Linked DNA regions of Homo sapiens. The protein of the gene in region 2 purifies or fractionates together with the protein of the main gene of each other region. This does not show direct contact. Each region holds a gene or a part of one and is shown on either strand. Other genes may lie near its edges.

The links. The genes of interacting proteins can lie anywhere in the genome.
Region 1: the proteins of NAT10 (region 2) and AATF purify together in Homo sapiens (affinity purification with mass spectrometry; 3 studies listed by BioGRID and IntAct, with this or other methods). This does not show direct contact.

What each region holds. Positions count from the first base shown.
Region 1 is NC_000017.11:36,944,261-36,952,975, reverse strand, and holds the start of AATF (protein AATF), read right to left. Parts: upstream 4,023-8,715; 5' UTR 3,851-4,022; coding exon 3,760-3,850; intron 2,763-3,759; coding exon 2,571-2,762; intron 91-2,570; coding exon 1-90. UniProt on the Homo sapiens protein: Part of the small subunit (SSU) processome, first precursor of the small eukaryotic ribosomal subunit.
Region 2 is NC_000011.10:34,143,629-34,147,632, reverse strand, and holds the end of NAT10 (RNA cytidine acetyltransferase), read right to left. Parts: intron 1,550-4,004; coding exon 1,441-1,549; 3' UTR 725-1,440; downstream 1-724. UniProt on the Homo sapiens protein: RNA cytidine acetyltransferase that catalyzes the formation of N(4)-acetylcytidine (ac4C) modification on mRNAs, 18S rRNA and tRNAs.

The DNA.
Region 1 (8,715 bases), on a different chromosome or scaffold from region 2:
CAGCACCCAGGTCGTCCTCATCATATTCCTCCAGACCCAGTCCCTCTGAATCTTCATCTCCAGACCCTTCCTCATCAGATATTTCCTCATCTACAAAGAAGAGAGGGAAGAAAGAGAAAAATGGGTATTACCTGGAGAAAATACCAAGCCATAGACTTCATTTCAACTTAAGCACTGTGGCATCAGGGGGAAAATCTCTTACTGCACTCAATTCAACAATATATTTATTACACATCTACAATCTCCAAAATGCTAAGGGAGAAGCAAAGATGAATAGAACACGGGTCCTACCCTAACAAAAGGAGCTAGTGGGAAAGACAGACTCACAACATTACAACTCAAGGAAGCATCAGAAGTGCTTTGACAAAATTTCAATAACCCAGAAGAGTGAGAAATTTTAACTGTGGGGCAAGTGAATTTAAGCTAATCTCTAAGGAAGAGCTAGCATTTGCTCTGGCCCTTGAAGAACAGTAAGATTTCAACTGGTGTTAGAGAATTACCAGTTTTCCCAAACCTGATCTGAAAAAATGTACAATCTATCACATCCGTCTGCCCTATTTACTAAATACTTATTAAGCACTCATTATGAGCCAGGGGCTAAGGAAAGGCAAATAGAATTTAATACTTGCTGGGAGGAGTTCATGGTCTGGTGGGAGTGGTAGATATGCATGCCAATAATTATATTACAAGGTCATTAGTACACAGTGTATGGAGATGGAACCACCTAACTCTCCTGGAAAGGTGGGGGATGGTATCATGTGGAGAAGGAGACATTATAATTTTACTTATGAAGCATAAGGCAACAGCTCATAGATAATGAAGGGAAAACGCACTGGAGTGCAGGATGCACAAGGAAGTGATGGGAGATGAGACTAATCAGGAAAGGTCTCGTCTTTCATGAGGACTCTGAACTTGATCCTATAGTAGACAGAGTGCTAGTTAAGGCTCTTTGTTTGACTTATGCTTAGAGTATCATCTGATATGTAGAGGTTTTTACAGTTTATCCAATCTGTTCCATGGTAGAACATAAAAGCCCCATGTGTTTCAAGTATGATTCTAAGATAGAGGGACCAGTTTCCAAAAACTTTCTTCAATAAAATAAAGATTTTAGGAAAGCGTGACAGGTCTTCAGCGCTTCTTTAAAAAGGTATATATAAACTTAAGACACAAAGCTGCCAAAAATATAAATACAAAAACTAAGTGCCAAAACAGTAAACAGAAATTATTATTTAAATTCTTTGAATGTACGCCATTTCTCAGATTAAGAAACATTCATACAGAGTTTACTAGAGTGTACATCTTGGAGTCAGACAGCCTACATTTGAATCATGTTTCTTCCACTTACTAACTATATGACCTTGAGCAAACTTATGTAACCAATTTGCCCCTCGATTTCCTTATCTGTAAAATGGGGCTAAGTAGTAATAACTTCCTGCGCAATTGGGAGGATTAAATTAGGTGACACATGTAGTGATAATGGTGATAATTTTTTATAAAAATCTGTCTAATTCCAGGTAATTTTATAATTTTTTTTTTGAGGACTTACTGTGTCCCAGGCTCTTAGAACTTAAATTATAGAGCTAAACTCAGTGCCTGACGCATGGTAAGAACTCAATAAATATTATCATATTTGTCTCATGATTGGTCCCTTTATCAGTCTCTAGGCAAAGAATATGAAATGAGCTTATCAGGAGCTCCCAGAACTACATCAAGGACTAAATCATAGATATCATAACCTAAATGATAGTTCCTTTTATATTATCTGTGGATTCTCAACATGACACCCCTGACCTTTCTAAAGGAAAACAAATGACATTCTCCCAATAATCACCATATCTAGCCCCTTCTTCCACTCTGAGAAATTTACAATTCTTTAAAACTATAAGCGCACAGACTCCTAACTCTTTTGCAGGGAAGAGAAGGATTATGTGATTTTTTAGAATGGCAAAAAATGAGTTTCACAAATAACTAATATCACACAGTGCTTCAATGCAAGTCCTGGAAAACCAAAGGTCAGGGGTCACAATTCAAGGATAACATGTTCATCAGACACAGTGGTTTTTCAGCTCATAACCCTCTCCAGTAGCCAAAATGCACTGCCTTCTCTGTCACTCCACTGTAGGGTGAGCCATTAGTCCGAACATAAGGAGTATAGCAACTTAATCACTCTGGGCTTTAGATTCCTTATGAAGTGAAATGAAGTAACCTCTAAGACCCTTTCTAATACCAAATCAATGGTCTCTCCTAAGATAACAGATAGGGGTGCCTGACCAACATGGACAAACCCCGTCTCTACTAAAAATACAAAATTAGCCGGGCGTGGTGGTGCATGCCTGTAATCCCAGCTACTCGGGAGGCTGAGGCAGGAGCCTCGCTTGAACTCCAGAGGTGGAGGTTGCGGTGAGCCGAGATGGCGCCATCACACTCCAGCCTGGGCAACAAGAGCCAAACTCTGTCTCAAAAAAAAGATCCGCAGACTACTCTTGCAAAGATCATGGGGGATGACCGGAGGATTTTAACCCTGAAAAAATTAGGGAAGAGAAGAGTTCCATTCAAAAATGTCTACTCACCAGACGATCCTGGCAGAGTCTGCTCCCAATGGTCTTCATTCCATGCTTTTCTAGAGGTGGTTTTGCCGCAATACCTTTTGTCCGTGTCCAAGAGGGAGGCTGATGCCAGTTTTCTAATGCTACCCACTACTAGGAAATCACCTTCCCCATCTTCCCCTTCATCAAACCTGTCAATCACCCTGGCAGCAGTGGCTGTCGGGGGAGAGGGAAAAGTAAACAGAATCTCCAGGTTAGCAGAAACTTTAACGGGAACCCTGGTCGACCCATTTATCTCATAGTTGAACGTCCTTTACGAAATCCCCACCAACTTCCAGGAATAGGAAATTCACTCTCTCCCAAAGTAGAACACTGTCTTACTGCTGTTTCTAAACAGAAAGTTGACTCCTGGCATCTACTAGTGGGATCTATTTCTATGACTTGGATCCTATCAAACTAGTTGAATTCCTCTTCAATGTGTGACAGTCGCTCCAATATCTTAAATCAGTCATCACGTTCTCCCCTCACTCTGTCCCATTCTTTGGGGAGTTTTCTTTGCTTATTCTGGCTAAACAGTCCCGAGTTTCTTCAACTGATCTTCCTAAGATACGGTTCAGCACTCGCATTTATCCCTCCTTATTATCCCTTTCTCACACTTCCGACTCAAGTCTAAAGCGGGATTACTCCCAGCTAGACTCTGAACATCAGCTTACAGAACAGGAGTCTCAGTCGTCAGCCACTGAACAAGTGTCTTGAGACTTCAAGAGACTTAAACAGCACCAGAAAATCCTTCCATCAGTCTCCAACTTAGTTTTGAAGGGCAACCTGAATTAAAAACATGCGACTTTCTTCTCCTCCTTTCTAACGCAATACCAGAAAGGGCATCCTCAAAGCTAACTTCCAACTTGCTAGCAGACTCTCTGGCTCCCTCCAACAGGCCTGGAGCAAGTAAACCTGAAGACCAGCTCCTCTCGGCCTGAGCCCTCGATCTGTTCCGCCCATCCAGCCGAGCACCAAGTTTCGAGTGCGTGTGAAAAGAAGCCGAAGCCCTCCTCCCGAGGCCGGGACCACCCTCGCGGGAGGCGACGTTCCTCTGCGCCAAGCGAAGGAGCGCAGGCCCGGCGGCCTCGCGCACGCCCCTCCCACGCCGCCCCCTTGCCCCACAGGGCCTGGCCCACCGCTCCGCACGTGGCCTGCCCCAGTCCGGCCTCACCTTCCTCGGGGTCCGCTTCAGGGTCCGCCTCGCTTGGTCGCGGGTTCAACAACTGTTCCAGTTGCAGCGCCAGGGGCTGCGGCCCCGCCATCGTCACCAGCTCCCGGTCCACTCCGCTTCGCGCACGTAAATGTGCGGCCCAACCCCCGGCCCCGAAGCTCCTTCCCTGCCGGATCCTCTCGCCTTGATCCGATTCCCCGACTCCGCCAGAGACCGCGCGGAGGCCACCCCACAGCTCTGGACCGGCCACTTCCGGGAGGCGCGCGGGAGGGGGCGGGGCCTGCGCGTCACTGCGGGCGTTGCTAGCATGAAGGCGGAAGCGCGCAGAAGGTTGAAGGGATTGGAGCCGTATGGGCGCGTGTGCGCGTGCGCGTGCGAGTGCGCGGGAAGGGGCGGTGCGGAAGCGCGCCAAGGCACGTGACCGCTTCTGTCGCTGAGATGCGATTGCGATGCGCGCGGCCAGTGTCCCCTTGTACAAAATATGCCTCGAGATTTGTGCGAGATTCGCTTAGGAATAAAGCATAGCGTAGCCGTGGCCCACGGTGGCTGATTTGGGAAGGAGGAGGGAGTAGGGCTTAAGCTGCTCGAATCGCGGGTGCGCACTCGGGCACGCAGAGACTGGGACCCAAAGCAGGTTTGTCATTTCGCAATTTATAGTAGTCTGAGGCCGGGCACACGCCTCCCGCCCTTCAGCGGCCAGGATTTGGGAATCCTATGTCAGGGATATGCACGTGTAAGTGTGTGGCGGACTGCTGGCGTCTTTCTTAATGGGAATACTTAGGAATCGCTGTGGCTAAAGATAGTTTCAGTAGCGTCTCTAAGTACCCTTGCCTGAGCAAGGGAAAGGGGGTGGGGTGTGGATTACTCCACTGCATACCCCTCGGTATTGATTATCTTTGCTGTTCAGAGATGAGGGCATGCTCAGGCAGCTTAAGCAGGTGCACAAATGCAGAAAAATACAGGTCTACCGTTAGAGGGACAGACTCAAAATATAAAGACTTAATAGTATAAATGTAATTGCACCCCGCACACGGAAAGACACAATCGCTTTACATCCTCTTTCCTTCATCAAGCATTCCCTGACTGCCCACTATGTGGCAGGCACTGCTAGATAAGATACAAGATAAGTAAGTTGGATTCTCCCCCCCACGGTAATCAGCCTAGGAGGGTAGACAAACATGTAAACAGAAACTGCAATAAGGGATGATAAGTGTGACTACAAAGTGGTCTATTCTTATGGTATCTGTTGGAGGTTGCCTGTAGAGACCTAGACCCCTCTAAACAGAATCTGCCTCAAAAGGATCCAGAAAAGAGATGTTAGTGGTGCACTGTGGCAGTGCCCCTTGGGTACAGCCCGGGCCAGTTGGATCCCACAGCTGAACAACTGGGGAACCCTCAGCTCTCTACTGTCTCCCATGAAAACCAAGGGAAGAGAGGATCTCTGACTTTCACAATCTTCATATGTCCTCAGGGCCAAGAGCAATAAGAGGACACCACTTTAGTGGAGCCTGTTCCATGTCCCTGTAAAGTGGCCCTTGAAGAATGAAGACAACCAGGGCTGCAGAGGGGAAGGAGAACCTGTCTGAGGGTAAACCCCCTCAGACATGGAAGGAAAAGAATGCCAGGCTAGGCAGGGCACTCAGGAGAAGAAAACGGCTTTTTACCATCCATAAGAGAGCTTAGCCTAAGAGAACAGTTTTTCGTTTATCCTCTATAATTGCAGTCTTGTGCCTGTGTCCGGGCCTCCCAAGCAAAAGTGTGTTCCTTGCTCCTTGACAAGGTGCCATGGGGCTTCAAAGGACAAAAATGTTTCTCCCACCCCACATTTAAGAAACTACCTCCTGCAATCCTATCCCCTTGCTATGTTGGGTACTTACAATGCTTAGAAACCTGGCCTTTGAGGTAAAGAGAAGGAAGAAAAGAGAAAGGGAGGTGAGTCACTGCAGAGACCACCTCTAAGCTGTCATGCAAACAGGACACTGCTGGTCAATTTGGGGGCTGTGCTGGGCAAACACTCAGCAGAAAATGCCATAGACCTGTTTACTTACTCTCCCTTCTCTGTCCTGGTCCCTACTGACTTGGGAAGCCATTTTAGCAAGGAATCAAGACCGTTCTACTGTCACACACATCCCAGGGCCCCCCAAAATGTTTGCCTGACCTTATACTGAAGGTAGAAAGAGGACTCCAGGAGTGGAGGGAAGAGGAAGTAATTCTAGGAATTAAGATGCAACTGAGAGTAGTTGAGGCAAGGGACAGGGGAGCAAATTCTCAAATACTCCCTCTGGGGGCCTCTCCCTACCTGCATTCCAGTGTCTTGAGATGGTGGGGGAAGGGCTTATTGATGGGGTAGGGATGGAGATGGAGAGTGGACTGTGGCGAGGAGTTTCAACCTCTGACTGATGTAGAGATGAGAGCAGATGAGAGGAACAGGGAGAGGAGAATAAGGGTGAGCAGTTCCCTAACAGAATGGCCTTCTCCAGAGAAGGCGGAGGGGCGCCCAGTCCACAATCCCTCTCCCTGCCCTCCAAGGGCTGCAAAGTGGCAGGCGATTAGGCACAGCAGAGGATGGGCAAGGGGTGACACTTTCCAATTGTCCCAAACAACTGTCTGCTCACTTGACAAGGAGTTTCAAGAGTTTGGGAAAACCAAGTTCCCACTTGCCTCTCTTCAGATGCTGTCCACCCTCAGGTGCCAGCCCTGGCAATGCCTATCCTGGCTCTCCACAGGTAATACTTCCCCAAGTGCCTCACCTAGAGCAGCTTACCAGCGGCAGCCAGCCCGGAGAAGTTGGGTGGGTGAGCTTCAGCTCCCTCGCCAGAGCAGATGGTGGCTCCCTGCTGCTGGAACCCTGAAGGCAGGTGGCGAGAGGCACAGAGGTGGTGGCTTTAAGATGGCCACAGGGAGAAACCAGGCTGCCCTCCCAGGCGAGAGGGGACTGCAGTGGCGCTTCCCTCCTGCTGCGCCTCCTGCGGGAGCTCCGCCTAGGTATGGTGCCGCACGTCCCCGCACCTCGGGGCCAGAGGTGGGCGGCACAGCACTGATGGGAAGGAGAACAGGCCCTGACATTTCCAGGCCTCCTCCTTGGGGCCTTCGGCTCCAAATTTGACTGCTGAGCGTTGCCACCTGTTCGGGTTTTCGCCAGGATTCTGAATCCCGCGACGAGGGGAGAGACTGCGCCACAACCACGTTGTTAGAAGAATCGAATCCACATCGTGTGCCCAACTCGAAAACGCTTCTTATCAAATACCCCGATTGCACAATAAAGCTGCTAAATAATTCAGCAGCCTTGATAGGAAAATGCAGCTTCCCAGTGAGCGCAGTTCATTTAAATGAATGTCTTTAAAGGGGGCTAGGGAGTAGAGGCTATAATGAATAAGTTAGCTAGGATTTAATGTGTATAAATGCTAAAAAGGTAAAAACAAGCCGATCCAGTGATTGCATATAAAGCAAATAAAGAAATGTGCTGCATGCAGAGGCTGGGAGTTTCAAAAGTCTCCTCTGTATTTCATACATTTTTATTTCTGAAAGAACACTGCCAGATTCCTCCCGGATAGCCTCCTCCCCCATTAGATAAGCCATCATATGGATGCAGTGAAATATTGCTTATTTTAAAGCCTTCTCTGCAGGAAAGATAAACTTGGCTGTGTCTTAACAAAATTTGAAAACAGCACTGGAAATTATATACCATTTAATGTCAAACCTTTGACTTTTTAAATAAGGAAATAAATAATCCAGAGTGAAATCTAGGTGATATGGAAAAGAAATCCTGGAACTCTAATAGCATCTGATACTGAAACACACACACATCCACAAGAATATTTCATAGTAGATAAAATATTCAAATTTCTTCCAAGTCTAATGAAGGACTGGAAAGAATCGAGCTACTTTTAGAACCTTTTGAGTTGAAATTTGATTTTGATATTAGTTATTTTTGTTCATCTTTCAGAGAAACTTAATATGTATCTTGTGCCAGGCAAAATAGTTTTCCTTCTGGGGAACTTCAAAGGTAACAAATACTATAAAACAACAATTTCATATCAGTTCTGTGAAAGGGATTAAAGTATTTCATTTCTAGCTGTACTATACATTCATTTTACATTATCTTTCAAACCACCAAATTAGAAAGCCTTTACATTATCTTTCAAACTACCAAATTAGAAAGCCGGATTATCTATAGGAAATGAAATGAAACTGAAAAGGACCACCTCTAACTATGTATTACAAGTATCTGATACAAGCCCAGTTTTGCATGTGCAGGGAGAGTGAAAGAGGGAATGCCTTGGATCTTATGCCTAATCACAGACCTGGACCACTCATTTTTTAGCCATGGATTTGATTTCTATTTCAAATTCTATATTAACTTATCAGCAAACATCTCTTCAACGGTATCAGTTAAATCCACAGGATGTAAATCTGTAGCTAATAACAGCAGGAAGCCACAGAGAAAAGCTTGGCTGGCATTAGCAAAAGGTTTCAGCCATAGCCAAGGCAAAAACAGATATATCATCCCAATCCTGCCTCTCTTTTCCACCTGGCTTCTGAGGACCCATTCAGCTCCCCATCAGGGTTCCCCTTTGAAAACATCAAATAACACACCAATTATCTAAACATCAGATTTTCTATTTTTATTAAAAACTCACAAATTTATTCAACATGTTTTCTTTCATACAGTGAATGGTCTAATATGCACTGGAGGTCACACAAGCTTAGGTTTATTAGAACAATAAAAGACATATGAGAAATTTAATATATAAAGAAAAAGTAGCAGCTGTTGACTGCATATTTGACCATAAAATTTAAATATTTTGGACTTTTATTTTAAAGACACAAAAATAAAACCTGTGTGGGTCTATATAAGTCATATTAACAATTCCATGAATGTTCAACAGGACAAAAAAATTAGCAAAGATGTTTTTTTTTAAATCTTGTAACACTTTTTTTTTTTTTTTTTTAACA
Region 2 (4,004 bases):
CCCATCCAGCTCTGACCATTTGAGCATGTGACTCTGCTTCTGGCCACGGTCTAAGAAAACCCTCTTTGAAAGGCAGGTTCAGGCACCCACCTGAGAAAATAAATAAAAATTATTTTCATGCCCCCTCCCTGCCTCCAGCAAAATTTCCTACAGACCTAACAGAGGTCTGTGGCCAGGAAACTTCAGTCCCAAGAAACGAAAGACCCCTAGGCTCATGTCCTGACAGCCTCGGTGACAAGCCTCAGCAGCCCTAGGGTCGCATACAGAACCTGCTCTTCTCCCTGTGGGGACGAGTCCTAGGAGCTGTATATGAAATACCCTTAGGCTGAGAAGTTACCGTTTCCTTCCCTGTCCTTCTCTGAACCTAGACAACATATCGGGGCTGCAGACTCATTAGCCTGGATACCATTAAACAAACATACCAAAGTATGTGTAAAGCCACCAGGTTACCTCTGTTCCCAACAAATGGAAGGGACCAAGTGACCTGGAAGGAGCTGGGAAGGAAATGAGGCAGTTCTAGCTGGCTTCCAGCCACCACACCAAGCCCCTCGAGGTGACCATAGCCACCTGCCACTTCTCCCGCAGACTCCTGGGCTGGGAAGCCCTAGACACACTGCTCACCTTTGACCTTGATACCAACACCTTCCAAATTCCACCAGGCAGCCAAGACCCACCAGAAGAAACGTCCAGGTGCGTGGATTTCAGAACACTCACAGGCAGCTGATCTTTCTAGAATGTTATTTATTAAAAATAGATTCTCTATCCTTCCCCTCACCCCTGCGAGCAAAGTGGCCTTTCCCAACATCTTTTCCCAAATGGATGAAACAGGTCTTGAGGACGCAGATGTGGCATTCTACATAAACTACAGGATCAGGCTTTTCTGGGACAGTGGGTCTGCTGGAGCCAAGAGTGGAACAGCACAAGACAACATCAGCAAACCCTGGCGCACCTAACCGCGGGCTGCCATGGATGCCGGGACGGACTGGAGTTCCTCCTGCTCCAGGTACAAGTCCACAAAGAGAGACCCAGCGGCCCAGCAGCAGCCTCCTGGGCACCACCAGAAAGCGATGTACTTAAGGGCCTCAGGCGGTCGAGAGGCAACGTGGCTTCCACATGTGTGGGAATGAGACTAAAAAGCTGGCTCAAAGCAAAATATGAACTTATAGGAAAGGAGGGCCCTGGACTGGGCAGGAAGAGAGAGACTCGTGGCAATTCTAGAGATGGCAGTGCCCAGCCATCAAGTTCTAAAGAGACCCATTTGGGAGTGACTCTGCCTTTAGCCAGGTTGAGCTCACAGACACACAGGCCCAGAGGCCGAATTCGCGGCCAGCTTCCAGGTGTGCCGGGGCCTCTCGTTGCTTTTAACAGTCCAGCCAGAGAGGGTTCAGTTAGTGAGAGTATCTTCCCATGATCAAACACAGATGCCCGAGTTTCTCTTCACTATTTCTTCCGCTTCAGTTTCATATCTTTTTTGTTCTTTGTCTCTCTGTTCTTCAACTTCTTGCTCTGTTTGGGTTCTTGTTTGGCCTCTAACTTCCTTTTCTTGTCACTAGAGAAAAATCAAAAATAGAAAGAATGAAATATGTACAGATCTGAACATCTGAGACTGCTTTAAGCTTGCTTTGCTTTGTCAAAAAGGGTTTCCACCGTCTGAAACTTGATGTAGGCCACCCAATTGGACATTAATGTTCTCTGCAAACCTATTAGGGGGCAGGCATTGTGCTGGGGCTGGGGACACACCATACAGACCAGCTCCTGCCCTGAGCCAGCTCTTAGTCTGTGGAAGAACAAATCTCGATCTTAACACCTGAAATCCGGGTTCTCCTCAGGGTGCAGTACACTCTGCTCCCCTCTCCCAAGACAGACCTAAGGCACCACAAGGATTCCCCACCACCACTCTCACCACTGCAGTGACTCTGGAAACTAGACATATTCATCCCAATGACCCTGAAGACAGTCCTTAATACAAGGCATGAGACTCCAAGGAAAACCCTGCCATACTTTCTGATGTGCTACTATTATTTTATTTTTCCTATATGAGAAGAAGAAAACCCAAACAACAGTAACTCAGGTGACACCCTGCGACCAGCCCCTGGATTCTTCATTGATATCCTGGCATAGGAATCACTCAGCAAACGGCCACCTGCCATTAAGAAACTTACAGGTTAAATTTTGCTCTGGGAACAAATACTTCCCTATAAGGAGACCGTGAAGAGTTCAGTCCAGAGACCATTAACATCATATGAATGAAGTACCTCTCAAAGGAAGAAAAAGAAAGGCCTCAGAGGACTTAATGATAGCTACCAGTATTTTTAGCTCACAAAGTTCAAGCTTTCACATTTACTCAGAGCCATCAAGCACATGAACAACCACACAACACTGGTTTGTTGGGCTCGAGAGGCTTCTCACTACCAGCAATGGCCAAACAAATGGCAGGAAAGGCCAAGCTCTGCAGAGTGAGGAGCTGAGGCCGTCTCCACAGCAAGCATGCTCCCCGGCCTTTTGTTCCAGTCAAAGCCACCGTGCTCAAGGCCAAAGCCATCATGGGCCCTGTGCTACATTTGCCATACTGTACAAAACAGAGACAGGTCACACTGACAGTGGGCTTCTGTGCTGCACCACAAAGCATCTGGGAAATGAGGCCGGCATCGATGCTGGATCCTTCAAGATGCCACAGTGACTAACGGAGACTCTGGAAGACAGTACCTGATTTCTGGGATCTATAGTTCCTAGAGACACAAGGTTTCCTCTTCCCGAATGTTTCCAAAATATAAGCTTTTAAGGAAACCAATAAATAGGGGATTGCCAAAATCTCACCCTCCCCATCAACCCCCAAATCAGCTGTGAAAGCCTCAATTCCAGTGGCTCTGGGCAGGGGAGGCCTCATTGTACTCCCAGGGAAAACTGATGAAGGTTCCAGCCTAAGTTATTTACAAATGCACCACTCTGCAGATAAGAAGCTTGGAGTGAAGATTTTCAAAGAGTGGTCTAGGGACTGCTGGGGTCCCTAAGACCCTTTCAGGTGTCCACAAGGTCAAAATGTATTTGGATTAGTATGAAAACAGTTATTTGCCTTTTTTCATTTTCATTCTCTCACAAATATTCAGTTTTCCAGAGAGTATAAGATATGACAGCAAAATAGTGTCAGTGAAGACACAGACATTAGTATCCGGCTGCCTTCTGTTAAGCCAGATATTGAAGAGATTTGCAAAAATGTAAATGTAAAACAATGCCACTCTTCTCACCAAAATTTTTATGAAAAAGAGTATTTTTCAAAACGACTGAGTCCGTTATTACTGTGAACAAATGAATTTTTTTTAAATTTCTCAGTTTTTCATTTATTTTCTTTTTAAAATTTTTTTGCAGAGACAGGGTCTGCTATGTTGCGCAGGTTGGTCTTGAACACCTGGGCTCAAGCGATCCTCCTACCTCGGCCTCCCAAAGTGCTGAGATTACAGGCGTGAGCCACTGCACCTGGCCAGTTTTTCATTTCTAATATGGGAAATTTCCATAGATATAACCAACAAAAGTCCTTTGGGGACCTTAATTGTTAAGAGATAAAGGAACTCAAAGACCCAAAACCTTGAGAACTGCTGGCTCAAAGGAAGGACAACGTAACAGTTAAACCTATGGCCTTGCAGTGGAGAAACCTGGACTTGATTCTGGCTCCGGCTCTCACTAGCTGTGTGCTTCTTGGGAACTTAACCCCTGAGAGCCTTGTTACTTCATCTTAAAGCAATGACAGTAATAAAACAGCCCCCTTATGCTGTCATCCTGAGGGCTGAATGATGAAAGCCCATAAGCAAGTCTCAGCCAGTGGCAGCTTCTGGACTGTTCCCTCAAGCCCTTCTCCATGACAGGCCCAGTGCCCTGGCATGGCTGACAAATACAAAGAGTGAAGAGATCCATGCCTAAGAGATGGCCCTCCTGGTCTGTGGGACATGCACTGCAAGGGTAATGGCCAGGGGACTCTCAAAGGGAAGAACCATGACTTTTCTGTCAAA